4 linked regions of the Homo sapiens genome follow. The protein of the gene in region 1 interacts with the protein of each later gene in a pairwise test. Each region holds a gene or a part of one and is shown in the gene's direction. Other genes may lie near its edges. The genes, in order: TBC1D10C, KLHL12, KRTAP13-1 and PPP3CB.

Evidence for each region.
Region 2: the proteins of TBC1D10C (region 1) and KLHL12 interact in binary tests that used the Homo sapiens proteins (3 or more experiments, as listed by UniProt).
Region 3: the proteins of TBC1D10C (region 1) and KRTAP13-1 interact in a two-hybrid assay, tested with the Homo sapiens proteins (one large-scale study listed by BioGRID).
Region 4: the proteins of TBC1D10C (region 1) and PPP3CB interact in a two-hybrid assay, tested with the Homo sapiens proteins (one study listed by IntAct).

The regions. Positions count from the first base shown.
Region 1 is NC_000011.10:67,405,470-67,413,688, forward strand, and holds the end of TBC1D10C (carabin), read left to right. Parts: coding exon 1-37; intron 38-125; coding exon 126-232; intron 233-433; coding exon 434-548; intron 549-1,133; coding exon of another isoform or gene 1,134-1,157; coding exon 1,158-1,223; exon of another isoform or gene 1,224-1,269; intron 1,270-1,357; coding exon 1,358-1,547; intron 1,548-2,079; coding exon of another isoform or gene 2,080-2,280; exon of another isoform or gene 2,281-3,499; intron 3,500-3,509; coding exon 3,510-3,664; intron 3,665-3,937; coding exon 3,938-4,285; 3' UTR 4,286-4,620; downstream 4,621-8,219.
Region 2 is NC_000001.11:202,893,147-202,900,665, reverse strand, and holds part of KLHL12 (kelch-like protein 12), read left to right. Parts: intron 1-3,705; coding exon 3,706-3,812; intron 3,813-4,948; coding exon 4,949-5,144; intron 5,145-5,916; coding exon 5,917-6,075; intron 6,076-6,383; coding exon 6,384-6,482; intron 6,483-7,240; coding exon 7,241-7,427; intron 7,428-7,519. UniProt on the Homo sapiens protein: Substrate-specific adapter of a BCR (BTB-CUL3-RBX1) E3 ubiquitin ligase complex that acts as a negative regulator of Wnt signaling pathway and ER-Golgi transport.
Region 3 is NC_000021.9:30,391,810-30,399,260, forward strand, and holds KRTAP13-1 (keratin-associated protein 13-1), read left to right. Parts: upstream 1-4,221; 5' UTR 4,222-4,277; coding exon 4,278-4,796; 3' UTR 4,797-5,013; downstream 5,014-7,451. UniProt on the Homo sapiens protein: In the hair cortex, hair keratin intermediate filaments are embedded in an interfilamentous matrix, consisting of hair keratin-associated proteins (KRTAP), which are essential for the formation of a rigid and resistant hair shaft through their extensive disulfide bond cross-linking with abundant cysteine residues of hair keratins.
Region 4 is NC_000010.11:73,473,135-73,481,346, reverse strand, and holds part of PPP3CB (serine/threonine-protein phosphatase 2B catalytic subunit beta isoform), read left to right. Parts: intron 1-1,378; exon of another isoform or gene 1,379-1,497; intron 1,498-1,829; coding exon 1,830-2,030; intron 2,031-2,723; coding exon 2,724-2,848; intron 2,849-4,135; coding exon of another isoform or gene 4,136-4,189; intron 4,190-6,316; coding exon 6,317-6,428; intron 6,429-8,212. UniProt on the Homo sapiens protein: Calcium-dependent, calmodulin-stimulated protein phosphatase which plays an essential role in the transduction of intracellular Ca(2+)-mediated signals.

The DNA.
Region 1 (8,219 bases):
CCATGTGTGCCAGAAGAACAGCCCTGGCACCTATCAGGTGAGGGAGTGGGCAGGGGCCCCAATTCCCCTACCCAGAGCCCCTCACCACACTGAACCCTCACACCCACCTTCCTGGCTACCCACAGGAGCTGGCAGAGGCCCCTGGAGACCCACAGTGGATGGAGACCATTGGCAGGGACCTGCACCGTCAATTCCCTCTGCACGAGATGTTTGTGTCGCCTCAGGGCCACGGGTACGAGGCCGGTGATGCCCAGGGACCCCCAGCCCCACAAGCCCCAGGTGCTCCAGCCCACTTTCCCTAGCCCAGCTCTACAGTCTTGCATCTCAGGGGACCCAGGAAGGCCCAGGGAGGCTGAGGCCTGGGCAGAGGCCCCCAGAGGGTGGAGAAGGGGGTGCCTGCAGGACTGGCCCCTTATGGGGTCTTCCGGCACAGGCAGCAGGGGCTCCTGCAGGTGCTCAAGGCCTACACCCTGTATCGACCGGAGCAGGGCTACTGCCAGGCCCAGGGGCCCGTGGCTGCTGTGCTGCTCATGCACCTGCCCCCAGAGGTGAGTGACCTTGACCCTGCTCTGGGAACCCTAGTGACCTAGGCCCAGGGAACCCCATCCCCAGGAACTGTGGCCTCAGAAACCTGCAATCCTTGATTCCTGGACCCTGTCCTAGTGACCCAGGTCCTCATGACTGCCAGCCTCAGTGACCTTCAAGCCTAATGACCTTGACTCCAGGAACCTGGGACCCTTGACCCCAGCCTTGACCCCAGTCATCTAGGAATCTGGATGTTATCACCTTGACCCCACGACTCCTGATTCTGAACTTGGGGACTGCGACCCCAACCCCAAAGACCCAGAAACCCAGGACTTGAACTTTGGGACACTCCCAACCCTTGGCCAGTGAACCCCAACCCTGTGACCTTCAAATCTAACACCATGAGCCCTGTGATTTCCAACACCCTAAACCCCTCAGCAGACCCTGTCTTGGGCAGAGGAGGGGGCTTTTGGGAAGGGCTTCCAGGAACTGCGCAGGTTAGGAGTGGCCCTGAGTGCAGGCCCCTGTGGTGCCCAGGCCCTCCCCTTCACTCCTTTCCCCTGTCCTGCCTTCTCCTCCACGGTCCCTTCCTTGGTGAGCACTTACAGGCCTGTGCCCTGCCCCTTCCCCAGGAGGCCTTCTGGTGCCTGGTGCAGATCTGTGAGGTCTACCTCCCTGGGTACTACGGGCCCCACATGGTGAGAGGCTGACATGGGGGCTGGAGGAAGGAGGGGCAGGGGCCCGGTGAGTGGGTGGGGGTCTGGGGACTGAGGGAGGTTGAGCCTGGGCTCTGGGGGTGGCGGTGCTGGCCTGCTGATGGACGTGGCCACAGGAGGCTGTGCGGCTGGACGCCGAGGTGTTCATGGCCCTGCTGCGGCGGCTGCTTCCGCACGTGCACAAGCACCTGCAGCAGGTGGGCGTCGGACCCCTGCTGTACCTGCCCGAGTGGTTCCTGTGCCTCTTCGCCCGCTCCCTGCCCTTCCCCACAGTGCTGCGTGTCTGGGATGCCTTCCTCAGTGAGGGTGAGTGGGGCAGCCAGTGGCTGGGGCAGGAGCCTTGGGGTGTGGGTGGGGAGGTAGCTCACCAGCTCCAGGGTTCCCTTTTTGAGCCTCAAATCACAGGACTGGGTGTGCCGAAGGTGATGGCCTGGTGCCTGGCGCTACATCACCCATCACCCATCACCCAGGCACCGCCTGGTGCAGAGCTGGGCCAGGGAGGCTTCCAGAGGAGGCAGATGGGGCAGGAGCAGGGTGATCACAGCACATGGAGGCCTGAGCTTCTCAGGGACAGTAGGAGGCGTTCCTCCCCAGAGCCCGCAGGCACCTGCTGGGTGCTCACTGGCTCCAGACGTGGATCTGCAGCTGGGAATCAAGTGATCGAGACCTTCAATTCTGGCGGGGGTGGGGATGGGTGGCGACAGTAACCAAATTCACAAGATATTTATAGATTGTCAGAAGTGTCATGAAGAAAATAAAACAAGGGATGTGACAGGGAGTGTCAGGGGAGTGCAGGGGCGATGGCTGCATTTAAGCTCCTTCTGGCTGCTCTGTGCAGGAGGAGGACTCACAGGGGTGGCTGTGGAGGCCTGGGGCCAGAGAGGCCACTGTCCCCAGGGGCCAGGCTACAGTCTACGAAGCAGGGAGGGCTTGGAGCCATGAAGCCAGAGAGGTGGAGGCTGGGGGCCAGGCCAAGAACAGGAGGGGAGTCGGAGCAGAGCCAAGCTGGACTCCCTGTGTCTTTGGGACTCTGCCTTGATACTGCCATCGGTAACCCACCTGCATTCTGTTCTATATGTGAGGTCTGGAGGTTGCACCTTAAAACGTGGTAGAAATCAGTCAGCATATGCATACTGTGCATACTGAATGCCTGTCGTGTGCTCAGCCGGCTTCCTGCCCTCCGCACAGCGGAGGACCACTGGCTGACTTAGAGTTCTGGCCACAGGTGTCCAAGTCGCTATCCATGCGGTCACCTTCCAACCAGCCTTAGACCTCGAGAGCAGGGCTGGGCAGAGCTGGGCAGGGCCTGACCTGCCCACCTGGGGGCAAACACTACACAGGCTCCCTTTATCAGAAGGACGATAGTATGAATAGTGATTGTTCCTACCATCATCACTCAACCTCGCTGGTCCCCTGGTGGCTCTTCTCAGATCAGAGGCTGCCAGGAAGGAATTTTGAGGCTCCAGGACTAGCCCAAACTCACACTGTGGGGAGTGTGCACTGAGTGCTATGCTCCTGGCTTAGGGAAGAGCAGTTCTGCCTAGGATCTTTCTAGAATCAGAGGGTCACAGATCCAAGTTGGAAAGGCCCTTAAAGGGCTCCACCTGACCTTTCATCATGGAGATGAGCAAGCTGAGGCCCAGGGAGGGCTTGGTGTGAAGGCATCAGTAGCCCTGGGCTCCTGGCAGGAAGCTGGTGGCTTGGAGGGGACTGGAGCCTTGGGGTGTGGACAGGGAGCTAGCTCACCAGCTCCAGGGTTCCCTTTTGGAGCCTCGAGTCATGGGACCAGGTGTGCTGAAGGTGATGGCCCTGTGCCTGGTGGCACATCACCTGTCACCCGGATGCTGCCTGGGGTAGGAGCTGGGTGATCATAGCACATGGAGGCCTGACTGGCTCAGGGAGGGTAGGAGGTGCTCCTCCCCGGAGCCCACAGGCACCTGCTGGGTGCTTGCTGGCTCCAGATATGGATGGCATCTGAGCATCAAGTGATCAAGACCTTCATTTTGGCGGGGGTGGGGATGGGAGGCGACAGTAACCAAATTCACAAGATAGTAACTCTTCCCCAAAGCATCTGTGGCTCTTGAGGCTAACTTGGCCAGTACAGCGGCCTGTGTTACCCGAAATGCAACTCCACCCTCTGTCATTGTTCCTGAACCGGGGAGGGCAGAGCTGCAGGAGAGTGGGAGGCATATGGCTGAGGGCAGGTTTGGGTGCAGAACTGTGGAGGGGCAGGGCCGGCCTCCCAGTGAATAAGCCCCCGGCCTGCAGGTGCCAGAGTACTGTTCCGTGTGGGGCTGACACTGGTGCGCCTGGCGCTGGGCACTGCAGAGCAGCGAGGGGCCTGCCCTGGCCTCCTGGAGACACTGGGAGCCCTTCGAGCCATCCCCCCCGCGCAGCTGCAGGAGGAGGCCTTCATGTCACAGGTGGGTACCCCCACCTCTCCTTGGACTTGCCCAGCCCCTGCTGCACGGGGGAAACTGAGTCCCAGAGCAGGAAGCCAAAGCGAGAATGGGGACTTAGTTCCTGTCCCCTGAGCTTCAGAGAACACAAAAACCTGAGGCCTCCAGTGGCTTTCTGTGGCTCCCCAGTGAGGCTGTCAGCCCCTCAGTCCTCAGCCACTTCCTGGGCTGGGGACCTCACAGTTTCCTGTTCCTGCCTTGAGGCCGGGCAAACGCAGCACCAACTGCTCCCCACAGGTGCACAGCGTGGTGCTGTCAGAGCGGGACCTGCAGCGGGAGATCAAGGCCCAGCTGGCCCAGCTGCCCGATTCCGCGCCGGGACCCCCGCCCCGGCCACAGGTCCGCCTCGCCGGGGCCCAAGCCATCTTTGAGGCCCAGCAGCTGGCAGGAGTGCGACGAGGCGCCAAGCCTGAGGTGCCTCGGATTGTGGTGCAGCCCCCGGAGGAGCCCAGACCACCGCGGCGGAAACCCCAGACCCGCGGCAAGACTTTCCATGGGCTCCTGACTCGGGCCCGGGGCCCCCCCATCGAGGGGCCCCCCAGGCCCCAACGAGGCTCCACCTCCTTCCTGGACACCCGCTTCTGAGAGGACCATGGACTTAGTGTCCCCCAGTCTCAATTGCCTGATGGCTGATGCCGGCCCGGCAAATAGGCACCGCACTTTACTCTTGGGACTCGGGGACTTGGCTTCCTTCCTGGCAAGGACCAGGCAGTGGGGAAGGAGGAGGTCCTCCGTGGTACATACTGGGTCAGGCACTAGCATGGAGGAGGGTCACAGAGTGGGGCACGTGAGGACCCATGGAACCGTCCTGGTGCCCAGGCCCTCACAAGTACCAAAGCCAGCACCAAAGGAGTCAGGGAAGGGGTTGGCTGAGTCAAGGGACCCCAGAGGGCACCAGGAATAAAATCTTCTTGAACAGATGCCTTGGATGGCGCTGGATCAAATGCCCTCCTCCCAACCCCAGACAGGCAGCCCCTTCCCCTCCTCCCTCATCTGCCCTTCCCAGCCCCGCCCTCTCCTGGTCCTGCCCTGGGGACACACCGAGGCTGCCCACTGGCCGCTGGGGAAGGTGTTTACAGTAATAAGAGCCAATTGAAAGTTGCCCTGCCCAGCCTCTGGGGACAGGAGTGGCTTTTGCACCTGCAGGAGGAGGGCGCCCCAGTGGATGGCGAGTCCAGGGGCTCTACCCCCTCTTCTGCCCTCCTTCCCCTCCCTCCAGGGTGGTTCAGTACTCGCTGGGATGGGGGACTCTAACCCAAGTCCTCCCCGCACCCATGGTTCTAGTCACATCTGTCAAAGGGATCCAGGCAAGAACAAAGGCCTAGTGTGCCTCGGACAAAGGAGAAAGGTCCCGCCAGCCCTCACCCCTCCCTGGGCCCTGCGTCTGCCCCCTCGGGACCGCCACCATGGAAACCCCCTCCCACACTCACTAATAGCCCCCGTGGGTGCCCAGGACCTGAGCCATCGCCAGGGCAACAGGGCTGGTTCCGACACAGGCGTGTGTCCCGCAGTGTCCATTCCCAAGTGCCCTCCCTTCGATGGGGAACACGGCAGGACTCCATATGGATGGGAGGCATCTGCAGGCCCAGGCTCCAGGGGTGGCCATTGGGTGGGGTGTCAGTGGAGTCACCTGTCAGACTCTGGGTTTGGAATGTTCTTGCGACAGGGCCACAGGCTGCGTCTATGTGGCAAGTGCCAGGTCCTGGGTCCTGGGCAGACTTGTCCTACTCCCAAGGAGCCTAACCCCTGGAAGAGGGAATCATGGCGGCCCAGACCCTTCCTTATCTGTCGTTTCTCCGGGGGAAACTGAGGCTCAGGAGGAGCAGGAACTTGCAGAAAGCCTTACTATCTATCCATAGCAGACCCAAGGTTTAGCCCTGCCCCAACCACTGGCAGCTCCCCCCTGGGCAGCCCCCTGGGAGTGCTTTCTCCTGCTCCTTCCCCGCTCTACCCCCAATCCTGCACCAGCCCCTCAGTGTGTGAATGAGGCAATAGCCAGACTCCCGTGATTTAGAGCGCGCTCCAGAGCCTCCTCTGCCCACTCCTCCTTACCCCGCTGGGGTGCCTGCAACTTAATAATAGCCTCCTTACCTGTAGTTTACAAAACCCTTTCCCAGACCCCCCGCCCCTAGGCCCTCTCTCTGCAGGTGGCCCCTGATATCCCTGTTAGAGACACAGGCTTAGTGAGGACAAGGACCTCACCCAGGCCCACAGTGAAAGGCAGAGCCGGCTGGAATGCAGAGGCAAGGCTCTGTGCTGTGTAGACTATGCCTTATCCTTAGACGAGGAGTGTCTTGGTGGAATCTCAGGCACTGTAGCGGGCAGGGTGGCCGGGGTCAGGGGGCACTTGTCCCTGAAATCCACTTGGGAGCTCCCCGCCCTCCACAGTTCAGCTCTTTGCCTGGGAGAATAGAGGAGCAAGGTGCAGCAGCCTCAGCCCTGGGCCGAGGGTCTGTCATGAGCCTGCGGGGGCGCGGTGGCAGTGGCTCACCCTGGACACAGACCCTAGGAGCCGGTGGTCTCCAGCAGCGTCCCTCCAGCTGGGGCTCAGTCATTGCCTTTCCTACTCAGGAGACTGTTTTCTGGGCAGCTCTTCTGTAGGTTTCCTTATCAGTCACCTGCATGGGAGCCCTAACTCACAGGCTGGACAGAAGAGGCCCAGTGCCCTCCGGGTGTGAACCCTCGCACACATGCGTTCTCACAGGCTCTCCTCCGCAGGGCTGCACCGGCCCCCACAGCACCTTTTTGCCAGCTAGGGAAAGACGTCTCTCCTCCAGGCAACATGCAGCCTCACCAGAGTGCACGGTGTAGCAGAGTGGGGTGTGATCTCTCTCCCAGGTGCCTTTGTGCAGTGAGCAACCTACACAAACATGCTCAGTGAACCTAGAAAGTCCCTACAGATCTGCCTGGAAGGGGGCTCAGAGAAGGGAAGTGATGCATCTGAGAGGACTCAGTGTGTGGGGACTGAAGCTGGGAGGGCCCCTGGGATGTCTGTCAGCCTGCCTCAGAGTGGACACGAGTGGGGGCATGCAAAGGAGTGGAGCAGGACAAATGGGTGCCTGCCATGGATCGGCGGGGAGGACCCACGGTCTCCATCTTGCCCTGCCACCCACTTGAGGTTCCCTGAATTCCCACACTGTTCCAGGCTCCCAGAGGGGTCAGACTTGGACTCACCTGCATGGGAAAGGCCCTTTCTTCTCCTCTGAGCCTCAGTATTCTCCTGCGGATAATGGGATTATAATAGCCCCCACCCCAGCCTCAAGAGGGCTCTACCAGCTCATGATGATGATGATGATGACTGTTCAGTCCAGCGGGACAGCAGCCAAAGCACTGCCTCTCCTCACCCCACCCCTACCTAGCCTCAGGTGATGTCCAGGCTTTCCTGGCAGGGGCAGAGCAGAACCACCCGCCCACCTGCCTGCCCCAAGTCCCAGGATCCTGAGCTTGGGCTGCAGCTGCCCAACTCTGATTTTCCTCCCTGTATCCACAAGGCAAAAGCCAGAGCAGCCAGGGACCAGACAGGGTGGCCTAGGAGAGGGCACAGCCGCAGCACTCTGTGCATGCATGCACGCATTCTGGCAGAAGATCCCGGCTCTGCCTCTCACCAGCTGTGTGACCTTGGGCAAGTCACACGACCTCTCTCAGTCTCATAATTGCTCCCTTGCATGTGAAGTGTTAAGCCTGGGCTGAGTGTGCACTGTATCCCCATTTGAAGATGAGAAAACTGAGTCCCCAGGGCTGCAGAGCTTGTTAAATGTTAAATGTCAAAGCTCATGCTCTTTGGATCACGCCCAGGCCCCACAGTGGGACCCCATGGGCGCTCAGGCCACCCAGGTGGCAAGCGATTGGGTCTCCTGGGGTGGTTGTGGGACCTGGGCCCCTCCCCTTAGTGATCTGAAGCTCACTCTCCCCAGCCTAGAATGGGGCTGGTTCCTCATTCCTGGAGCCTGGACCAGCTGTAGGGAGGGCTGCACGTGGGCCTGGAAGTTGTGTGGGGAATGTGGGCTGGACTGGGCATCCTGGAGAAGCCATTTCCCCTCTCTGCCGACCCTCTCCAGTGGTAGACAGGGATGGGTCTGCACAGACTGCCCTGTATATAGTTGCAGAAAGGGTCCAACAGCTGTCATCTCTGTCCCTGACATGTGTGGGCCCCTCAGTATTCTCCCCCAGGCCAGGAGGCTCTCAAGGACAGCCAGGGCTCAATATGTGTCCAGTTGCGAGACAGGCAGGGAGAAGGGCTGACTGGGGACTGTGAGAGGGAGGAGTTAGAGCCATAGGCTGCCCTGCCTAGGAGAGGGAAACCAGCCCCATTCTAGGCTGGGGAGAGTGAGCTTCAGATCACAAAGGGGAGGGGCCCAGGTCCCACAGCCAGAGCTAGGATTGAAACCCACTGGTGGGACACACTCCAGGAGAGGGGGTGAATCTCTGGTTGTGCTTCTGTGGGTGAATTGTGGCTGAGACCCAGGTCTCCTGGGGTATGCTTCTGTGGTTGGGTGGGTACACTTGGGTGTGAGTATGT
Region 2 (7,519 bases), on another chromosome or scaffold:
CCTTGAACTCCTGACCTCAAGTGATCCACCCGCCTCGGCCTCCCAAAGTGCTGTGATTACAGGCGTGAGCCACCACGCCCAGCCTTCTTTATTTTATGTTACTTTATTTTATTTTTTGAGACAAGTTCTCACTCTGTTCCCCAGGCTGGAGTGCAGGAACACGACCTTGTTCACTGCAGCCTTAACCTCCTGGACTTAAGTGATCCTCCCATGTCAGCCTCAGGAGTAGCTGGGACTACAGGCATTTGCCATCACACCTGGCTATTTTTTTTTATTATTTTTTTCTAGATATGGGAGTCTCACCATGTTACCCAAAGTGGCCTCGAACCCCTGGGCGCAAGGAATCTGCCCACTTTGGCCTCCCAAAGTGCTAGGATTATAGTCATGAGCCACTGTGCCTGACTTCTTTAGATATATATATTTATTTTTGGGGGGTTGGGGGGTGGGGCAGGGAGTTATATAAAGCAACAGAAATAAGAGCTGAAAAATCAATAGAAAACTTTAAAATTTGCATAGCACAGGAAGTACCTCTTGGTTGGTGTGGGAATTTTTATTCATACATACATCATCTGCTGGCATATTCATCTACATGGGAAATGTGTTTGGATAGAAGGATCACACTTACCTTGTCTATTCAAGTCAGGAAGAAAAGAGGTGGAGTAAGAAAAAGGAATAGGTAGGGAAATAGTGTTCCCAAAGAAGAAACAAATAACTTGTGGTCCTAGCTTCTCCCAACTTGAAGTAATTTTAGGCAGACATAAAATTACTTCAATCACTAAAGAACCCTTCATTCTTATGCTTTGATTTTTTTATTTATTATTATTATTTTTTTTTTTTTTTTTTGAGATGGAGTCTTACTCTGTTGCCTAGTCTGGAGTGCAGTGGTGCAATCTCGGCTCACTGCAACCTCTTCCTCAGTTCAAGTGATTCTCCCGCCTCAGCCTCCCAAGTAGCTGAGACTACAGGTGCGCATCACTGCACCCGGCTAATTTTTGTATTTTTAGTAGAGACGGGGTTTTGCCATGTTAGACAGGCTGGTCTTGAATTCCTGACCTCAGACAATTTACCTGCTTTGGCCTCCCAAAGTGCTAGGATTACAGGCATGAGCCACACCTGGCCATGCTTTGATTTTCGAAGGAGCTGACTCCTGAGACCTACTTGCTGGCTCACTTTGGAGAGGGTCCACTTTATTTGGCAAGTACATAAGACAAGTGCCCTCTTAGAAAAACTCCGTGGTTTATGTGTGAGTGTATATGTTTTATTAAGAAAAATCTCAAACATAAAAATAGTAATATAATGATCCCCCATACCCATCACTCAATTTTAACAATTATCAACACATAGCTTTTTCTTTGAGATGGAGTTTTGCCTTATTGCCCAGGCTGGAGTGTAGTGGCGCTATCTCAGCTCACTACAACCTCCACTTCCTGGGTTTAAGCATTCTCATGCCTGAGCCACCCGAGTAGTTGGGATTTCAGGTGTGCGCCACCACACTCAGCTAATTTTTGTATTTTTAGTAGAGACGGGGTTTTGCCTTGTTGGCTAGGCTGGTCTCAAACTCCTTACCTCAAGTGATCTGCCAGCCTTGGCCTCCCAAAGTGTTGGGATTACAGGCATGAGCCACTGCACCCAGGCTATTTTGAAGCAAATTCCAGACTGGATATTATTCCATGCCTATGTGTCATACTTCCACGTGTGTCTCTAAAAGATAAGGAAAAAAAATTCTGCCACATCTAGAATGCCATTATCACTGTTTAAAATCACACAATTCCTTATTCTCACGTGTTTGTGTAATTTTTTTTCCATAATTTTTTGTTGTTTGTTTTTGAGTACTTATGTTGTTCAAATCAGAATCCAGACAAAGTCCACACGTTGCTCGTGATTTCATGTCTCTTTTCAGTCTCGTTTTAATCCAAAAGTTTCCATCCTGTTTTGGTTTTTCCCAGCCAGTTTATTTCTTGAAGAAGCCAAGCTGTTCGACCTGTAGAATTTCCCACATTCTAGACTCTGCTGTTGCATCTTTGTAGTGTCATTTAACATGTTCTTCTCCCATGTATTGCCTGTAAACTAGTGGTTGGATTAGAGGCTTGTTAAGAGTCAGGCTCAGTTTTTTGGAAAAAAGACGAGGTGGTAGTGTGGTCCTTCCTATTCATCACCATTAGGAAGCACTCAATGTCTCATAGTAATATATTGGCTTTTGAAATAATGATTCTAGCCCAGCAATTGATGATAATTGTCAAATCCATTACTTCATTAGGGGTTTATCTGTGTTTCCTGTCAGCTTCAAGGTACTACATTTGCTCTTTCAAGTCCAGGTTACTCATAAGATCACTTTGGTCTCCTAGATGCTTCCTAGTGATTGAATTTTCCAAAGCTCCAGCTAACTATTCTCTCCATGAGTTCTAATGGAGCACATGCACAGGGGATTTTCTCAAAGAGACTTTGCTCTTTGAAAAAAGCCAAGGCAGGTGCTGTGGCTCATTCCTGTAATCCCAGCTACTTGGGAGGCTAAGGCAGGAGTATCGCTTGAGGCCGGGAGTTTGAGACCAGCCTGGGCAATATAGCAAGACCCTGTCTCCAAAAGCCAAGGTAGGAAATATTTTATCAGAGTAAGGCGTTAGGGGAAGGGGAAGATATAAAGGCTGTCAGAATAGCTTCTTTGGGAAAATAGAGAAAAAGACTTTTCCTTTAAAACTCTAGTCTTTTGTTGCCTGGTGGTTTTGATGAATTGGCAGGGAATGTGATCATATAGTTGACTAAATTGGAGAAGGAAGTGTTCATGGAAAAGAGATTTTAGGCCAGGCACAGTGACTCATTCCTGTAATCCCAGCACTTTGGGAGGCTGAGGCAGGAGAATCACTTTAGGCTAGGAGTTTGAGATCAGCCTGGGCAATATAGCGAGACCCTTTCTCAATTCAGAAAAAGAAAAAGAGATTTTAAATCCATCACTTGGATCCTAAGTTTCAACATGTAGCTTTTTTTGTGACAAGGTTAGGAGAGTTCTTTCCCCATTACAACAAAAAACCTCCCAATTTGAGTTTTTCAGGCTAAGTGCAGAGAGTGCCTTTAGGCTCTCACCTGCACTTAAGACCTCAAGGATTATGTCAGCCAGTCATCTCAATAGGTTGAAATGGTGCAGTGTTGCCGGGCACAGTGACTCACACCTGTAATCCCAGCACTTTGGGAGGTCGAGGCTGGCGGATCACTTGAGGTTGGGAGTTCGGGACCAGCCTGACCAACCCCATCTCTACTAAAAATACAAAATTAGCTGGGCGTGGTGGCACAGCCTGTAATCCCAGCTACTCGGGAGGCTGAGGCAGGAGAATCACTTGAGCCCAGGAGGCAGAGGTTGTGGTGAGCCGAGATCATGGAATTGCATTCTAGCCTGGTCAACAAGAGCGAAACTCTGTCTCCAAAAAAAAAAAAAAAAAAAAAAAGAAAAAGAAATGGTGCAGTGTCATGTTGAAGTTTGCTTTCTAGAGTTTTAATGTCCAGAAATTTAAGTTTCAGAGACTCGAGAGCTACAGCCTCAAGGAAAAATAACTCCCCATTCGACAGCCTTATGATTATCTCCCATTTCGGATTGCATCCCTCAGCCACATAAAACAAGACATCCTAGAACTGTTTCTGTTGACACTTCCCTGTGACTAGTTACCCATCCAGGGATGCTGAACTAACCCATCTTTTTTCTGCCTTTGTCTTCAGGAGCCAATGAAGTGCTTTTGGTGGTTGGGGGCTTTGGAAGCCAGCAGTCTCCCATTGATGTGGTAGAGAAATATGACCCCAAGACTCAGGAGTGGAGCTTTTTGCCAGTAAATAATGGTGAAACCATTCGTTGGGAGGGATGTTAAATGTCCTCAGTCTCTGCCTCCAGATCATAGCTAATCCAGCCTTAAGAGTAGAAAAGCCTAATAACAGGATGTTTCTTACAACAGTCTTGTGCATATAGTAGGTACTTACTTAACAGTTTTTGACTGTTTAGATTAGAAGATTATGCCTTAGAAATGTCAGTGGCCCTGTGTCAAGGTAAACTCAGATGGCCACCACTAGTTAGGTGCCTTTCTAAGCTGTCTGTATAATTCCTAGCACATTTCATTGGTCGTGCTGTGTTAAACTGAACTGAATGTTAAATTGTGTTGAATTGAACCCAGTGTTCAGTTGAGCTCAGAAGTTTGGGCTGGGCGTGGTAGCTCACACCTATAATCCCAGCCCTTTGGGAGGCTGAGATGGGAGGATCTCTTGAGGCCAGGAGTTCAAGACCAGCCTGGGCAATATGGTGAGACTCTGTCTCTACAAAAAAGTAAACAAAAAAATTAGCCAGGCATGGTGGTGCATGCCTGTAGTCCTAGCTACTTGGGAGGCTGTGGCAGAAGATTGCTTGAGCCCAGGAGTTCGAGGTTGCAGTGAACTGTGATTGTGCCACTGCACTCCAGCCTGGGTGATAGTGAGATCCCAACTCAGAAAAAAAAAGTTTGTATCTGTCTCCCTCAGCATGTCTCTCAGTGCTGAATGAACAATAGTAATTTCTGAGAAAACATGGAAATCCAACCCTCCTACCTTTTAAGGTTCTTATAATAAATCCTCATCCTTTGATTAGCAATGTGGGAATACTTTTCTACTTTATGGAAGGATATCAGTCTCTTAGCCCAGTGCCTTATGGAAGAGAAAGGAGTCAGATATTGGATAACAGAAAGCTGTTAAATCTTTTGGAAGCCTTGGAAAGAGGCAGAGATGCAGAAAGCTTGTATCTTTAAGAGCACCACAACAGGCATTTCGTTCAGTAGGTAGCTATTTGGGAGCCACTTGAGGATGAACCACTTAAGGAGGGTTCATGATGACAGGTGAAGAAGCAGAGAGGTGTGCAGATACAACAGGGAAGATAGCAAAAGGTAAGGCCCAAAACTTGCCTAACTGAAATGCTCTGTACCTCTTCTCTCCAAATCCATAGAGCATCACTCGTAAGAGACGTTATGTGGCCTCAGTGTCCCTTCATGACCGGATCTACGTCATTGGTGGCTATGATGGCCGTTCCCGCCTTAGTTCAGTGGAATGTCTAGACTACACAGCAGATGAGGATGGGGTCTGGTATTCTGTGGCCCCTATGAATGTCCGACGAGGTCTTGCTGGAGCCACCACCCTGGGAGGTAGGCTGGATGTGCAGGGCAATTATTTCCATCTTACTGTGGCTGGACCAGGGTTTTTAACCTCTCCTGTTGTCTGGCAGGAGCATGAAATACGGAGAAAAAATTAAGGTCAAATGTTATTATTATTTGAGACAGGGTCTCTCTCTGTTGCCCAGGCTGGAGTGCAGTGGTGTGATCACGGCTCACTGCAGCCTCAACCTCCCCAAGCTCAAGCGATCCTCCCACCTCAGCTTCCTGAGTAGCTGGGACTACAGGCATGCACCACCATGCCCAGCTATATTTTTGTATTTTTAGTAGAGATGGGGTTTCGCCATGTTGCCCAGGCTGATCTCTAACTCCTGAGCTCAAGTGATTGACCCACCTCGGCCTCCCAAGGTGCTGGGATTACAGGTGTGAGCCACTGTGCCCAGCCGACAAATACTCCTTTTTGCTTTCAGAAATATCAGTGTAATAGAAGCTGTTCAATATTCATGGATGTTTCATTATTGACTACAAAGTTGGCAAATCAAGTTCCAATGTGCTGGGTGGGGAACTGGCACTAGTTGTGTTTTTGCAAACTCCTAGGTGGTCTTTGAATGCTTTTAAGGATTTTGTTTTACCCCATTCTTTTTAGATGTCTTCCTTGTCTATAAAACTTAATTGACTTATCTCATTTAAAAATACTTTGTTTTTGCTCTCAGACTTTTAAAGGACCCTTGGAAAATTTGTAGAGGAAAGAGTTCTTAGAAATCTCTCATTCTCTAATAGTCTGTAATTTGTTTATTCTGAGCAGATATGATCTATGTCTCTGGAGGCTTTGATGGAAGCAGGCGTCACACCAGTATGGAGCGCTATGATCCAAACATTGACCAGTGGAGCATGCTGGGAGATATGCAGACAGCCCGGGAAGGTGCCGGACTCGTAGTGGCCAGTGGAGTGATCTACTGTCTAGGTATTGAGTCTGGGATGCAGGAATGGGAGGGAACTCAATGGGTAATGGGCTGTGGGTAAGGATTCCTTTTTACCAAAATGACGTTCATAGACTTCCCTTCAACTAAAACCCTGGTGTGTCTTAATATATTTTCCATTAATTGGGATTATCTTTTTCTTATAAGCATAATGTCAGATTTCTCTTAGAGTTATTGGAACTCTTGTGGGAAAATTGAAACTAAAATAATTAGTTGAAGCACTCAGAAAAAAACCGACCAGGAATGGGCATGAGGATTTACCACTCTTTCTGGAATGGTCTCTGTCTTCCAGGAGGATATGACGGCTTGAATATCTTAAATTCAGTTGAGAAATACGACCCTCATACAGGACATTGGACTAATGTTACACCAATGGCCACCAAGCGTTCTGGTAAGACCAGATCTGAGGGAGGGGACAATAGGCGATGCTGTCAGACCTTTACATATATAATGGTGGTGCATGGGACAAACCGTAGATTAATGTAAAAATGAGATTCTGCTCTCCTCCTTGTCTCTGTTTTCTCTAAATACTAGGATAAAGACAGTTGATACTTACAACTAGATTATAAATTTGAAAGCAAAAGCCTTCATGTCTTTGTTCTCTCCCTACGTTTTAGAATATCTAGTACAATTTTGCCTGTGTAGTACATGCTTAATAAATATCTGTTAAATAAAGTCTCTAATGCATAAGGACAAAAGAGTAGCTACTTACCTTCACCAAGAGCTTTTTGAAGTGGAGCAGGCTGGGATATAGAAAAGGAGAGAGCACTGTGCTGTTCTAGTTTACTTACTCTGGGTAAAAATTGCTTCAGAACCATAATCACAACTCCTTTCCCTCCATCTACCTTTATTGCCACCTTTTTTTCACTTCCTCCCTTTCTCCTAATTAGAAGGGTTGGGCTCTGAGTTAATGAAAGTAAAGAAGAGAACCATTTTTATTATTTATCTTTTATCATTTCAAGTCCAAGCCAAAGGGTTTATAGATGGAATAACTTGTGCTGGACTAGATTATTCTAGGCCCGTGTGGGCCCATTCCATATCCCTCATCTACTGTAGAACTCAGCTAGTCATTAGTGACCGTAGTTTATTTCTATAATTCAGATTCTAGGCTTAGTACCATACATTTGCTAATGCATTCATTTTCCCCAGGTGCAGGAGTAGCCCTGCTGAATGACCATATTTATGTGGTGGGGGGATTTGATGGTACAGCCCACCTTTCTTCCGTTGAAGCATACAACATTCGCACTGATTCCTGGACAACTGTCACCAGTATGACCACTCCACGATGCTATGTAGGGGCCACAGTGCTTCGGGGGAGACTCTATGCAATTGCAGGGTGAGGATTTAGAAACGAATCCAGACTCAATATGTAGCCAGAGCAAGAGTCTATGTGATCTGATCCTCATTTTTGGACAGAGACAAGACTTG
Region 3 (7,451 bases), on another chromosome or scaffold:
ATTTATGGTGAAAGGAGTCATTACTAGTCATCATGAGACCATCTGTACAATGTCACTGGGTAGTGACATGGCCTCTGTTCAGACTCTAAGATGTTCCATCTTGCAGGATGGATATTAATGCCACTAAATCCATCTTCAGCATTCTTGAATGAGAGCATTTGCAATAGCTATTACATCTTTGCAATAGCATGAAGACAGAAGACAGCATATTATTATCAAAGACTGCACATTACAATCAAATTATAATACTACAAGCAGAAAATAGATTACCTTTCCTCTATTTTTAATGTACTTTATAAACTTGGACAGACAAGCCGTGTCCAGAGGGGGTTATGGTGGTCAGGCATGTAGCATGATTTCACAGGGCTATGAGGATCTCCTGTGGGCTCCTGGCTAGATGTTAACCTTTTAATTTAAGGGAGTAACTTCCAAAAATGGTGGTACATGAGAACCACGAATGAGGCAGCCTTAGGAGGAATTTAATCATCTGTTTTTTTATTTAAGTAATTAATTATTTTTTGGTTTATTTGTATGTCCTAAAATGACCCATTGTTCATTCTGTTGCATATTCAGAAGTTAGACAACACTGATTTAAGCATTTGCCCAGCATATAAAAACCAACTCAAATTCTGCTGGCTTATAAAGTATTTGAAGTCAGAGGAGATCATTTCAAGCCACTACATGATGTAGGCAGCTCATAAATATAAGTGAGGTGGTTCAGTGGATTTGTGATTTGTTTGATGATTGATGCTTCATATTCTAATCCATCATCACAGACATGATGTATTTTCTTATTAAACATGAAAGAATATTTGTCAAGTGCACGAGAATATAGTTTTCAGAAATTTTCTTGAAACCCAAAGCTTCTTAATTCATCTCACATTCTCTCACTTATGATAGAGACATTAACCAACACAACAAAATAATAGTGCAGGCTTGATGCGTAGTCACAACTGAAATTTGGCTGTAGAGCTGGGAGACAAGAGGGGTGGTTAGAGTTGTGGGGATGATAAGAAGCATGTCCCACATCCGTGGAGCAACTCTTCTTCAGTTCCAGCCAACTGTGAGTGAGAAAACCCAGGATCACCAGACTTTCAGAATTTTTAAAAAAGAAATCACAAATCCAAATTTTTGTGAATTTTTGATTGTTGAATATTAGCAACTAATTTATAGTTGAATAAAATGCCCGGGGGGGCCTGCACTTGTGAGATGAATGAACCTATGTGGGCTGGATTTGACAGAGGACCTGTGAGTTTATGGTCTATTATTTCAACTGGTACCATTCACCAGCCCATTAGTGCAGGGAAGGCAGGATATGCATGGGGAGGAGAAGGGCACTATTGCAAAGCGGGGAGGGAAGTCATAAGGGTAAGCCCTGATAAACACATTTGCTGACTTTGTTAATTTGATTATTTCCAGTTAACAAAAAGTTACCCTTAGTTGTGATAGGATGGTTATCTTCAAAAAGTTCCTTGGAAAATGAGGATTTGAGAAAGAAATGGTCTTCACAGCATCTTGTGGGCTAGGACTTTTCTCGCAGCTGCCAAGAGCCTATAGACAGAAATTTAGATATTTAGAAGATCACAAGATAAAGTTGTTAAAAGTAGCTGTTTGATGTGGAGGAAGCTTCTTTGTCATTTTTTTTTTTTTACTTATGCAAGTTTTATCTAGTGAGTTCTAAAGAAAATTCCAATTAAACATACATTTACATTAAGAAAAAGTTGATACTTTCAGTATCTGTTGTATAATTACCTTTTTATTAAATAGATTTGCAATTCCATGACATTAGCCATGGCTTTATACTTCTTGAGCCCCTGACATCACATATTTGGACTTTGGCATATATTCTGTCAGGGAATTTGTCTTGAATTTTTAGAAAACATATATCCAAAGAACATAATAAAGCTATCAGACATTTTCTTATTTTGTTTTCTGTTTTGATTTGGGATTAAACAGCAGCAAAGACAAGAAAAACACCAACAACACATACAGCAAAGTAATTACTAAAAGTGAGGCTGGAGCTCCAGAGAGACACATTGTCCTGACAGGTGTCCGAGGGAGACCTGGTGTTCCATGTAAGTCCCTGATGTCTTAGAGAGACTGTCATGAGCACATGCTCAGACATCTTGGGCAGGGCATGTTAGGCAGAGGCAGAGACAGATGTAACCTAATGAAGGGTAAGCTTGAGGGTACTTCTCTTGCCTGACATTTTCCAAAGCTCTGTTATCACTCCTGGGGAGACTGGGAGGAACCCGCTGCTCCAGCTATGCTGCTGTGGCCTAGGAGTCCCTCGTGGCATCCTCAGGCTGTGGGTGTATCCGGAGAGCTGCCTGCACTACTTCTAATATATCTAGTCCCCAGGGTCAACCTTATAAACCTTAGAAAGTTTTCCTTTTTTTTTTTTTTTTTTTTTTTTGAAACAGAGTCTCACTCTGTCGCCCAGGCTGGAGTGCAGTGGCGCCATCTCGGCTCACTGCAAGCTCTGTCTCCGGGGTTCACGCCATTCTCCAGCCTCAGCCTCCCGAGTAGCTGGGACTACAGGCGCCCGCCACCACATCCAGCTAATTTTTTGTATTTTTAGTAAAGACAGGGTTTCACCGTGTTAGCCAGGATGGTCTCTATCTCCTGACATTGTGATCCGCCCGCCTCGGCCTCCCAAAGTGTTGGGATTACAGGCGTGAGCCACAGCCCCCGGCCCATAGTTTTCCTTTTAAGAAGAAGGATTGGAACGAGGATACTGCTCTGCCACAAACTAGAAGACCCCTACAACCCTGGATCCACAGCTGTTTGCAGCCGATCCTCATGCAAATTGCCAACAGATACAGGTGGGAGGTGAACCAGGGACATCTGGACAAGAGGCGCACAATCTCAGGCTTGAAGCACTGCTGAAATGAAATGACAGAGGGTGTTACAGCTGTGGCGTTGCTCACAACAAATGGCAATGTTAAAAAAAAAAAACTTTTCTGTGTCATAAAAAATAATTCAAGTATTTTTGATGTACTATTTCTAAAAGAAACACCAAGTTTTACTTCCATTTGTTCTACAGAAAATCATGTGGACAAAACCATTGTCATGTGTAGAGATGATCAAAGACCGACTATGCAACCAAAAAATGTAGAAAAAGATTATAGATGAGGATGATGATAAAGGTATATTATTGTCTTGATTTTGTGACATCTTGGGTTTTGTTAACTATGGAAGTTTTTATTCTAAGTTAATATCCATGTTTATATCTATTATTATATTCCTAATATTGTGTTTTTAATGAGGATCTCCAAATTATACTTTTCAACACCACAAAACCTAAATCCACCTCTTTAAAGAGGGCTGGGACAGAGTCACGAAAAACATAGAAGCTGGTGTTACCCCGCAAATGCTCAGAAGGCAGTCAACATTTTGAGGTGGGGGTTTAGAGGTGTTGTAGACAGGTAGGCTCCAGAACACTTACAAATATGAATGCATCATACAAAAGTCATCAAATAAGTTTATTTGAAAGCATTTTGATTTGCTTTTAGGATGGAGTCCTGAGCATCCTTCTGCTATTGTGACTACTCTGACTTGTTTCCTACCTCATCTCAGCAGTGTCTTCTACTTTCCTTTTTTTCACATGGGTCCTTATTGTTGTATTTGTATTTATTTATTTTTTGCTTTTGTTTTGATTTCTTTTTTCTAAATACTAATTTTTTAAAAAAATTTGTTCAAGATGATATCTATGTCTAGTTATCTCTCAATTCCTTTGGCTTACTTTTATATAGGCCCTCGAGACTGGACTTACAAGCACTGATTATAGTAAATAACAGATGGCAAACTATTTTGGAGAGTGTGAACAATAAGATTTCTGCCTCTAGGCCACTGACAAAAAAAGATGAATACATTGCTATCCCCACCCAAGACAGAAAGAATTTCCCAGCCAAAACAGGAGCAGATGTATAAATCATGGGCAGAGAAAATAAGAGGGGTTTTCCTGGACATAATGGAGTAGGGACTAATCACATACTGTCATAGCATTTGTAACATAAATGCATTTCATTGACGCAGAGCTGTAAAAACAAAAGGAGTTCTTCCATAAATATAAGATGAAGGGTGTTAGTTAACTGCAATGACAAAGAAGATTACTAAGTTGCTTATATGAAATGTGGGAGCTTAAATGTGTGAAGGATGACCCTGTAAGGTGCCACACCCACGGCTGAACGTATATAAATGGTCCTGTCCAGATGTGGCATGCAAACTCAGAATCTTCTCAGTGTAACTCAGCTGAACTCACATCTCCCATCAACATGTCCTACAACTGCTGCTCTGGAAACTTCTCCTCCCGCTCCTGTGGTGGCTACCTGCACTACCCAGCCTCCTCCTGTGGCTTTTCCTACCCCAGCAACCAGGTCTACAGCACTGACCTCTGCTCTCCCAGCACGTGCCAGCTGGGTTCCTCTCTCTATAGGGGCTGTCAGCAGACCTGCTGGGAGCCCACCAGCTGCCAGACATCCTATGTGGAGTCCAGCCCCTGCCAGACCTCCTGCTACCGTCCCAGAACCTCCTTGCTCTGCAGTCCCTGCCAGACAACTTACTCTGGGTCTCTAGGCTTTGGATCCAGCAGCTGCCGCTCCCTGGGCTATGGATCGAGGAGCTGCTACTCAGTGGGCTGTGGGTCCAGTGGCTTCAGATCCCTGGGTTATGGAGGCTGTGGCTTCCCTTCCCTGGGCTATGGCGTTGGATTCTGCCGCCCAACCTACTTGGCTTCTAGGAGCTGCCAGTCTTCTTGCTACAGACCAACTTGTGGATCAGGCTTCTACTATTGATCATCTTGTTAAATTGCTGATTTTGTTGGCTAATGCCTTCAATGCCTCTACTCATAACCTTTATTGTCTTCATCATGTACAGAAAGAATTAGCCTCTTATTCTATAATTATCAAGTTCTCAGTTTGTCTTTGTCCCCAAATACTGGCTGGCAGGCTTCATCTGAAAAACTGTAATTGGAGAACTAGCTCAAAATAAATCTTGAAATACACATTAAAAGTAGAATTTATATTATTCGATTTTCTTCCACAATTGTATAAAAAGTCAAATCATTTTAATCCAATAAATCCATTGGTCTCATATTCAGCTATGTTTGTGGTGGTTTTATATTGCTAGGGTTTTGGTTGTGATGTATTAGGCAATTATTATGAAACAATTGGTGTATATATATAGGAATAGGTTTCAAAATCATATGAAGTTTGCGATTCAGACAAACTTTTGGGGGCCTCAGAGATTTTTGTTATTCAAACTACAGGTAGTGGAAGTCTACTAAATTTACAGACTTTTATTCATTAAAATATCAGAATCAGGAATTAGCTTGATCCCCTTATAAAATGTGGATTCTTGTGTCTATGCCAACAAGCATAAGGTAGCAAACTAGTTGATAGTTATATCAGGAATCTGCAGAGAAAAAAATACTATTTAGAACAATATGGTTATAGATATACATAAAAGAAAAATGGAATTGAAGAGAAACAAAAGTGATTTGAAGTAACTTTTGAAGTCACCCAATATTTGTTGGTAATCATGATCAAATGCCTGCATCTCATTGATGAGAATTCAATATGATTCAGTTATCTACATATGTGTAATAAGGGATACCATGAAACTTGAATGGAGGATTGATATTCCACCTTGGTTTGTATTCATGTTTCACACTAAGTAAAGCTGAAGATAATAACCTTTTGATATCATCAGAAGTGATAATTTAATTCACATCTGAGCATAAAATTAGGGAAATGTTATTTCTCTTTTTTGTGGTAGCATTCTTTGTTTTCTCAGGCAAAGCAGTTCCAGAAACAGGTGTGAAGATAAATAGATTTCAATAAGGAACCTAAAGTTGAGAAGAAAAAAAGAGCTCAAACAACGTTCAATAACTATTCCCATGCATTATTCCTTTAGACAACAGCTGTTAGAGAAAGAGATCCATTATACATGTAAATGATGTTAAATGTAAAAATATGGAGACACAAAGATGATAAGGAATGTACAGGGAAACTTATTGTACGATATCTTGAAGGAGCTGCAAATTTTTGACTTGCAAAGACAGAAATATCGGAGGGGAGAAGTCTGGGAAGATTACACGCAATAAGCAAAGCAGAAGGGGCTGAAAGTCTTTGTGTATTCAAGGAATTATTGGAAATTTAGCTCAGTTACAATGCAAAGTGATTTAATATGGTGTGGTAATGACAAACATGTTCATTCAAACTACTAACACAGTCTTGAGATAGGGCACTTTTTTTTTTTTTTTTTTTTTTTTTTTTTGGGACAGAGTCTTGCTCTGTCACCCAGGCTGGAGTGCAGTGGCGCAATCTCTGCTCACTGCAACCTCTGCCTCCTGGGTTCAAGCGAGTTTCATGCTTCAGTCTCCCTAGTAGCCGGGATTACAGGTGCCCACCACCACGCCTGGCTAATTTTTTTGTACTTTTAGTAGAGACGGGGTTTTGCCATGTTGGCCAGAGTGGTCTCCAACTCCTGACCTCAGGTGATCCGCTCGCCTCGGCCTCCCAAAGTGCTGAGATTACAGGCATGAGCCCCACACCCGGCCGAGATTGGGCACTTTTATTCCATTTTCTCTTCTATTCTAATCACTTATGTACTTTTAAAAAGAAATCTTTTATCCAATGATTAGGTATAAATTATTAGGTTCATACCTAAGGTTAAATAAGTTAAAATCAAATGCTTACAAATGAAAAAACAATTTATAATTAATGTCTTTTGTTTAGAAAATCTAGACAAGGAAAATACATGTGAAAATATTCAGAAATTATGAGTGTCAACATCTAAGAAAGGTCTTGATATATAAACATACATGTGAAAATATTTAGAAATTACCAGGGCCAAAATCTAAGAAAGGTGTTGATAAATAAACAAGCAGAAAGCCATGGAATTCATGACTACTTTTAGAATAGGAATGTTGTCAAATCCAAAAGAGAGGCTGAAGTTCAGCTCCAAATCATTTCAGTGCTTAAGTTAAGAGGATATAGGAATACCAGGGTTCTTGTTCTATCCTTCCAAAATCAAATTTAAATTCTTCCAGGAGGAGGATAACATCACAGTGAGCTCTAAATTATTTCTTTATATAGATAAATTTAGATACAAATGTAAATATAGATACCTATTTATATATAGATATAGATACCATTGCAGATATAGTTATATCTAGATACACATGAAGACGCAGATATAGTCTAGTACCCAACAAAAATTTACCAGGCTTCAGAAGTTAAGAAATTATTAAATCCAAAATATAGATATATGTAGCAGAATTAGGCTTACAAGAGCTTCAGTAAATGAAAATATTAGACATAAATGTTAAATAACTACACTTGACATGCTTAGGGAATAAAAAGATAGATGAAAAATTTTGGCAGAGTACTGAAGTATATTAAAAGAACCAAAAACAGATTTTAAAATTAAAAAATGTGATAAATTAA
Region 4 (8,212 bases), on another chromosome or scaffold:
GTGTGCACCACCACACCCAGCTAATTTTTGTGTTTTTAGTAGAGATGGGGTTTCACCATGTTGGCCAGGCTGGTCTTGAACTCCTGACTTCAAGTGATCCACTGGCCTTGGCCTCCCAAGTCTGGGATTTCAGGTGTGAGTCACTGCACCCGGCCTATTTTTCTAAAAAAAAAAAAAAAAAGAAAAAAAAATCTGGAAAGAGGGAGCTGCCTTACATTTCAGTCTATATTTATTAGACTCCTAATGTACATTTCTCTCTCACTTTCTTTATTTTGAAAAACAAAGTACTATTCAGTAAAGAGCCTGAAACTGCTTCAGTCCAAGCTGATTTTGAATGCATAAAGATTTACTTGTTGGATTCAGTAAAAAAGGAATAAGAAAAACTTACTATATAGTAATTTTTCCTAGGTATATGACCTCAAAATTGTGCTTAGATGCCATTGAAATAGATGTTCATGTTTTCCATTCCACTCAACAAATATCACTTAAAAACAGTACAGTTGGTGATTTCTTACAGAAATCATAAATATGTACTGCGGAGTGAAAAAACCAACTACTTAACTATGATGAAATGGGAACTTTTGGTTAAATTTGTAGGGATAGGCCAGGTGCAGTGGCTCATGCGTGTAATCCCAGAACTTTGGGAAGCCAAGGCGGGCAGATCACCTGAGGTCAGGAGTTCGACACCAGCCTGGCCAACATGGTGAAACCCGGTCTCTACTAAAAATACAAAAATAAGCTGGGCATGATGGCGGATGCCTGTAATCCCAGCTACTCGGGAGGCTGAGGCAGGAGAATCCCTTGAACCCGGGAGGCGAAGGTTGCAGTGAGCCGAGTTCACGCCACTGCATTCCAGCCTGGGCGACAGAACAAGACTCCATCTCAAAAAAAAAAAAAAAAAAAAAATTACAGGGATAAATTTGCAGTGGTAACATTTTACACATATGCAAAAAGTGCTGTATCTCAAACAGTTTAGGTGGAAATGAGTATGATTTGCTTTCAGAATGTGTGTTAGGTGACTCAGAAAGTGACTTCAATGATAAGGAATGCACTGGTTTCGAATATATGCATAAAGATTTTGAATGAAGGTGTTTTGTGAAACGTTAAGTAAGGTAGGAGAAAAATCAGTATTTTGAAATTATGATTTATTATTTTAAGCCTCCTAAATTAATTTGCATTTCAGAAGTAAACATCTGGTGTTTGGTCTATATCTCTAAAAGTGTATAGTCAAGTTGGTCAGAAAACATTGTTTTTATGTTCTTATTAGAAAGGAACATGGTAAATCACCTTGTATTTGGGTTTTCTTTCTAGTTAGGCTTATTTGGTATTAAAGTGTTGTGGGGTTTTTTTTGAGATGGTGTCTCGCTGTGTTGCCCAGGCTGGTCTCCAATTTCTGGCCTCAAGTGATCCTCCTGCCCCAGCCTACGAAGTAGTCGTGATTACAGACATGCTTCACTACTCCCAGCATTAAATTATATTTATTGTACTTCATTTAAGGTAAAGAATATCTAATACTATAATACAATATTTTGAGAGTTCTGCCTAAAAATGTTTTGGCTTAAACAAAAAAGTTTTGGTTATCCTGAAAGAACTTAATTTTGTGAGACAACTCATTTCTCTAATAATTCTCAACAAAGAACATGTTAGTATAAATAGCTTTAAAAGTGGTATAATTTGCTTACTATTTAGAAAAACACTTCTACCCAATAAATGAAGAAGAAAGAAAAATCCCTGCTTTACAGTTTTTAGTCTTATCTAGATCCAATTATTAGTTTTTAAGTTAATGTATTTTTGGTGACTTATCTTTTATTAATTAAAAACATTTGCAGCTGTCCCTTTCCCCCCAACACATCGCTTGACATCTGAAGAAGTATTTGATTTGGATGGGATACCCAGGGTTGATGTTCTGAAGAACCACTTGGTGAAAGAAGGTCGAGTAGATGAAGAAATTGCGCTTAGAATTATCAATGAGGGTGCTGCCATCCTTCGGAGAGAGAAAACCATGATAGAAGTAGAAGCTCCAATCACAGGTAAGCTTATTCATGTTTTGGGTATTATTTTTATTATGTCATTATTTAGTTGCCTGGATTTACAACTTACTGTTTTCAATGATACTGTATGCTAAATCAATATTACTTGGACATTATCTTGAATTTCAAATTATTTTCCATACTTAAAAATGATTGCCTGTTTTCAGTGAATAGACATGATTCTAAATAATCTGAGTGTAGAAGTTAGTCTAATATGCTTTTGTGAAGGTTTCATCAATTGTGTTGACCATACTTCAATTTGATCAATACTTACTTTGCTTTCAATTGTTAGGGTCAAATACCTTGATGTCATATCAGATACCAAAAGTGACCATTTAGAGAGCAACAGAAAGTATTGAGTTAGAATGGATATTTTAACTGCCACCATTGTAATTTTGTCATCTTGAAACTTAAAACACATCCTTGGAGTCCTAGAGACGATCTTTATAAATGTAGATTTCAGTTTGTCACTGACCACAAATTTCGTTATTTCTGTTACATCTTTTTCTAGATCTTGAGCACATGAACACTTGGTTACACATCATCCTAATCATGACTGTTCATAGACTACTTCCTTCTCAGACATTTCTTGATAGCATTTGTACTATGTCTTATGTAAAATACGTTTTAACTTAAGTAAAATTTGTTGTTTTAGAGATTTTTTTCCCTTATCTAATAATCTTCTTGTTTCAGTGTGTGGTGACATCCATGGCCAATTTTTTGATCTGATGAAACTTTTTGAAGTAGGAGGATCACCTGCTAATACACGATACCTTTTTCTTGGCGATTATGTGGACAGAGGTTATTTTAGTATAGAGGTAATAATCATAAACTGTCATTTGATTTGCTGTTAAGTGTTAACACAGATGCTTTCACTTAATCCTAGTTTTCACAAGTACCTGTGTTAGGTTTTTTTAATAACTCTGCATATTCTGAAGTTTTTATGAAAAGCTACTATTTATTCCTGTTCTGTCTTTCAAACAATTCAAATAAATTTCTTTGTATAACTCTGTTTATATAATTATAATTGCCATTTTTTTCCCAGTGGAATTTATGAGCTGACTGAGGGGTCTTTATTGCCCTGTTAACTAGTGGCCTTAAAAATTTAGTGCTATTTATCTCTCTTGCCCCTAAAGGCATTAAACCATGTGAAAAAAGATTACTTGAATTCTGTCTGATTAAATAAAGTATATTGTGATTTTTTTATTGCTTGAGCCCTAGTGCTTCTGTTTCTCCTTGTGTAGCTATTAAGACTCAAGTATATCCTATGGAATCTTTGTGTATTTGGAAAGTATTAATTTGTTTTTAAAAACTTGAGGCATTAAAATGACCTTTTGATTATCACTTAACAGTAGATGGTTCCTTTTCTTCCTTTTTCTCTTTTCTTTTTCTTTTTTTTTGAGACAGGGTCTTACTCTGTGGCCCATGCTGGAGTACAGTGGCACCAGCATGGCTCAATGTAGCCTTGACCTCTTGAGCTTAAGGGATCCTTCTGTCCCAGTCTCTCAAATAGCTGGGACCACAGGTACACACCACCATGCCTAGACTAATTTTTAATTTTTTTGTAGCAATGGAGTTTCCTATGTTGCCCAGGCTGGTCTTGAACTCCTGGGCTCAAGTGATCCTCCTGCCTTGGACTCCCAAAGTGTTGAGATTACAGATGTGAGCCACATTGCCCTGCCATCTTTTTAAATTATATAAACAAAATGCAGCAAATGTAGAACAATATGTATTTTCCAATATATACATTTTTTCTTTTTTTAATGAAAAGGGGATCATATTATAATATTGTCTGTAACTTGCTTTTTCATACATGCCTACACCAAATATCCTTCCAAGTCAGTAAATATAAACTCGTAGCATCATTTTAATATCTACATTGTTTTCCATCTAATAAACAAACCATAATTAATTAATTCCTTGTGTTAGACACTGAAGATGTTCCCAGTTTTTTTCTTTACAAATGATGCTTTAATGAGTCATATTATTCATACATCTTTACATACTTGCCTGATTATTTTTGTAGGACAAATTCCTAGAGGTAGAATTGTGGGGTCAAATTTCTACCAATAGATACCTGTGTTGCACATTTAATATGTTCTAAGCATGTTCTAGGCACTGAAGACATATCGATTAATCCTCACAATAATATTAATGAGGTAAGTACTGTTGTTTTATTCATTTTATAGATGAGGAACCTGAGGCTTAGAGAGGTTAAGTAACTTGCCCAAGGTATTATTAGTAAACAGCATAGCCAGGCAATGTGACTCCCAGCATATGCTTTTAACCACCTTCCCTAGTAGATACTGAAACCTTACCTGGTGAATTTATGTTGGTTACTGTTGTTTATATCTCCTTCTCCAGTGTTTCCAATATACCTTTTTTTCTGAGGTGTGCTAGGATTCTCAGAGTGGAAGGAAGTTCTAGACTCTGTCTGTCCTGCTTCCCTTAGGAATTTTGCTATTTTGAGTTCTTCTTCCTCCTGCTGATAGTTGATTATTAGCCTCGTCAACTTTTCCCAAATTGTCACAGGGCTTCAGGCAAATCAGAAAATGGCCCATTTTAACAAAAAAATTTCAGGCATTTGACCAAAACAATAAAATAAACAGTTTTATGAAGCTTATTTGGTAACTAAGTTGGTGTGCATGTCCTTGTGTAAGATTGTTTTGCAGCTGACTCTTTTTTTTTTTTTTTTTAATTGAGATGGACTCTCACTCTGTCGCCCAGGCTGGAGTGTAGTGGCGTGATCTCGGCTCACTGCAACCTCTGCCTCCCAGGTTCAAGAGATTCTCCTGCCTCAGCCTCCCAAGTAGTTGGGATTACAGGTGCCCACCACCACTCCCGGCTAGTTTTTGTATTTTTAATAGAGATGGAGTTTCGCCATGTTGGTCAAGCTGATCTCGAACTCCTGGCCTCAGGTGATCTGCCTGCCTCGGCCTCCCGAAGTGCTGGGATTACAGGCGTGAGCCACTGCGCCTGGATGTAGCTGACTCCTTTAATACATTTTGTTGTTATAAAAGGAAAATAACAAAGAATCAAAATAAGCATCGAGAACAGATTATTTCCCTGATTTTATTACTTTTTTCCCTTTTGAATAAAATGAAGGATATGAATAGTTACATGTTTAGATATACCTTAATTTATTAACAATAAAGTTTTGTTGGGTGTGGTGGCTCACACCTGTAATCGCAGCACAGGTTGGCCAAGTCAGGCAGATTGCTTGAACCTGGGAGTTCGAGACCAGCCAGGGAAACATGGTGAAACCCTGTCTCCACAAAAAAAAAAAAAAAAACTTAGCTGGGCCTGGTGGCATGTGCCTGTAGTCCCAGCTGCTCAAGAGACTGAGGTAGGAGGATTTCTTGAGCCCAGAAGGTCGAGGCTGCAGTGAGCAGTAATTGTGCCATTGCACTCCAACCTGGGTGACAGTGAGACCTTGTCTCTAAAAATAAAAAAGTTTGTTTTTTCTTTTTGCATATGATTATATAAACCATGCTTATTTCCATATCAAATATTTCTTCCTTTTTTAAGCAAATAAGTAAAATGTGAGTCTCTTTCTTATGTTAAATCTATTTAGAGAATAGCATCTGCTATAATGTTTAATAATATTTTTATTTGAAAAATTACATTTGCATTGAATTAGTTCAGATAATAAGCACTTACCATATGTAAGGCAATATTCATAATCAATGAAACAAACATAAAACATGGACCTTCCCTTCATGGGCAGCATGGCATAATGCTTAAGATCAGAGGATCAGAATCCTATCTCCATCACTTAGAAGTTTTGTGGTTTTGGACAAGTTACTTGAGATCTTTGCTTCAGTTTCTCATTTGTAAAATAAAGATGATATTACATACTTCATAGTGTTGTTTGAGGAATAAATTAGGGGAATTATATAGTGCTTCACATATTGTAAGTACTTAATAAATGTTAGCTGCTGTTATTTTGACAGTATTATTTACTAATACGCATCTGTAGACCAGTGTGCTAATTGTTTTTATATTGGGCAGTCTGTAAATCCAAAGTAATTAAATAGATTGTTTGACTCATTCATTCAACAAATATTTATTGCTCTTCTCCTATTTGCTAGGTACTCTTCTGGGAGTGGAGAATCAAAAGTGAATAAGATGACAAAATCTGTGATTTTGTGGTGCTTATATTTTAGTAAGGGACAAAGAAAGATAATAGAGGATGGTAAGGGTAGTAGAGGAAAAGGAGCAAAGATCAAGCAGCTTCATTAAACAAAAGTACAAGATAAATTCACTAGAAAAATTTTCTTTTGCAGTGTGTCTTATATTTATGGGTTCTGAAGATTCTATACCCAAGCACATTATTTCTTCTGAGAGGCAACCATGAATGCAGACACCTTACTGAATATTTTACCTTTAAGCAGGAATGTGAGTACTGCCAGAAGAAATGTTTTCACTTCCTCAGTATTCTTTTGGACTTAAGTGGGTAGTAAGAGTTTTGAAGACTTTACAGTGCAACATGTAAGGACAGATTTCATGTCCACACATAAAGCTTTGAGGAAAGTTGTCGAGCACTCTCTGGTGTTTAATGGTATTAAGAAGTTTTTGGTGGGGCATGGTGGTTCACGCCTGTAATCCCAGCACTTTGGGAGGCCCAGGCAGGGGGATTGCCTGAGCTCAGGAGTTGGAGACCAGCCTGGCCAACATGGTGAAACCCCATCTCCACCAAAAATACAAAAAAAAAAAATTAGCTGGGTGTGGCGGCACACTCTTGTAGTCCCAGCTGCTCAGGAGGCTGAGGTGGGAGGATCGCTTGAGCCTGGGAATCGGAGGTCATAGTGAGCTGAGATCATGCCACTGCACGGACAATTGCCTGGGCAATAGAGTCAGACCCTGTCTCAAAAAAAAAAATTTTTTTTCATTTCAGAATTTCTTATTATGTTTAACTTTTACAAACATACTTAGAGTTTTATATATAAGTTTTAATGTTACAATTAATTTTTCTAAGCCAGGCACGGTAGCTCACGCTTGTAATCCCAGCACTTTGGGAGGCCGAGGCGGGTGGATCACCTGAGGTCAGGAGTTCAAGACCAGCCTGGCCAACACGGCAAAACCCCATCTCCTAAAAATACAAAAATTAGCCAGGCGTGGTGACATGTGCCTGTAATCCCAGGTACTCAGGAGGCTGAGGCAGGAGAATCACTTGAACCTGGGAGGCGGAGGTTGCAGTGAGCCGAGATCGCGCCATTGTACTCCAGCCTGGGCAACAAGAGCGAAACTCTGTCTCAGGAAAAAAAAATGTATATATTTTTTCTAACAGGAAAAAATAAAAACCAAAAGAAAAAAATGTTATTTTGCATTGGAGATTTTTGTCCTTCAATCTTGAGGCATTCCTGTGAGGAATCCTAACAAATTGTTTATCCTGTTACCATTGCAGATCATTTCAATCATGCTATTAATGATTGAAATTCTTCTTAAAATTTTTTTGTTTTTTTAAATATCATTGTTTTAAGACTAGTCAGGTACAGTTGGTGAAATTCTTAACCTGCAATGTTTATCCCTTTTCTCTCTCAAATTATTATAGCAATGGTAATCTAATACCTGTAAGTAACCATATGTTACAGAACAAGATTAGGCCTTTTTCACACCTCAAACCTTTGTGCTTTTTTATTATTTTTGTTATTTTTATTTTTTTTTTGAGACAGTCTCGCTCTGTCGCCCTGGCTGGAGTGCAGTGGTACAATCTCGGCTCACAGCAACCTCCTCCCGGGTTCAAGTATTCTCCTGCCTTAGCCTCCCAAGTAGCTGAAATTACAGGCATGCGCCACCACGTCCTGCTAATTTTTGTATTTTTGGTAGAGGCGGTGTTTCACCATGTTGGCCAGGCTGGTCTCTTAACTCCTGACCTCAAGTAATCCACCTGCCTCGTCCTCCCAAAGTGCTGGGATTACAGGTGTGAACCACCGCATCTGGCCTGCCTTTGTGCTTTTTAAGTTAATATTTATGACTGTATTAAGTAGAGTTAAATTCTAAAAGCAGAAATAATTTCAACGTTTTGAGACTCAAAACATGATCCAATAAAGGTCATACTAAGTAGAGACTTGCAGCAACAGGAGAAAAATACAGTGATGGGTAGTGGCAGAAGTGGCATACTCTTATAACTTCAAGGATCAGGCAGTTAACCTAAATGAGTAAGATAAGACCTGGAAAGT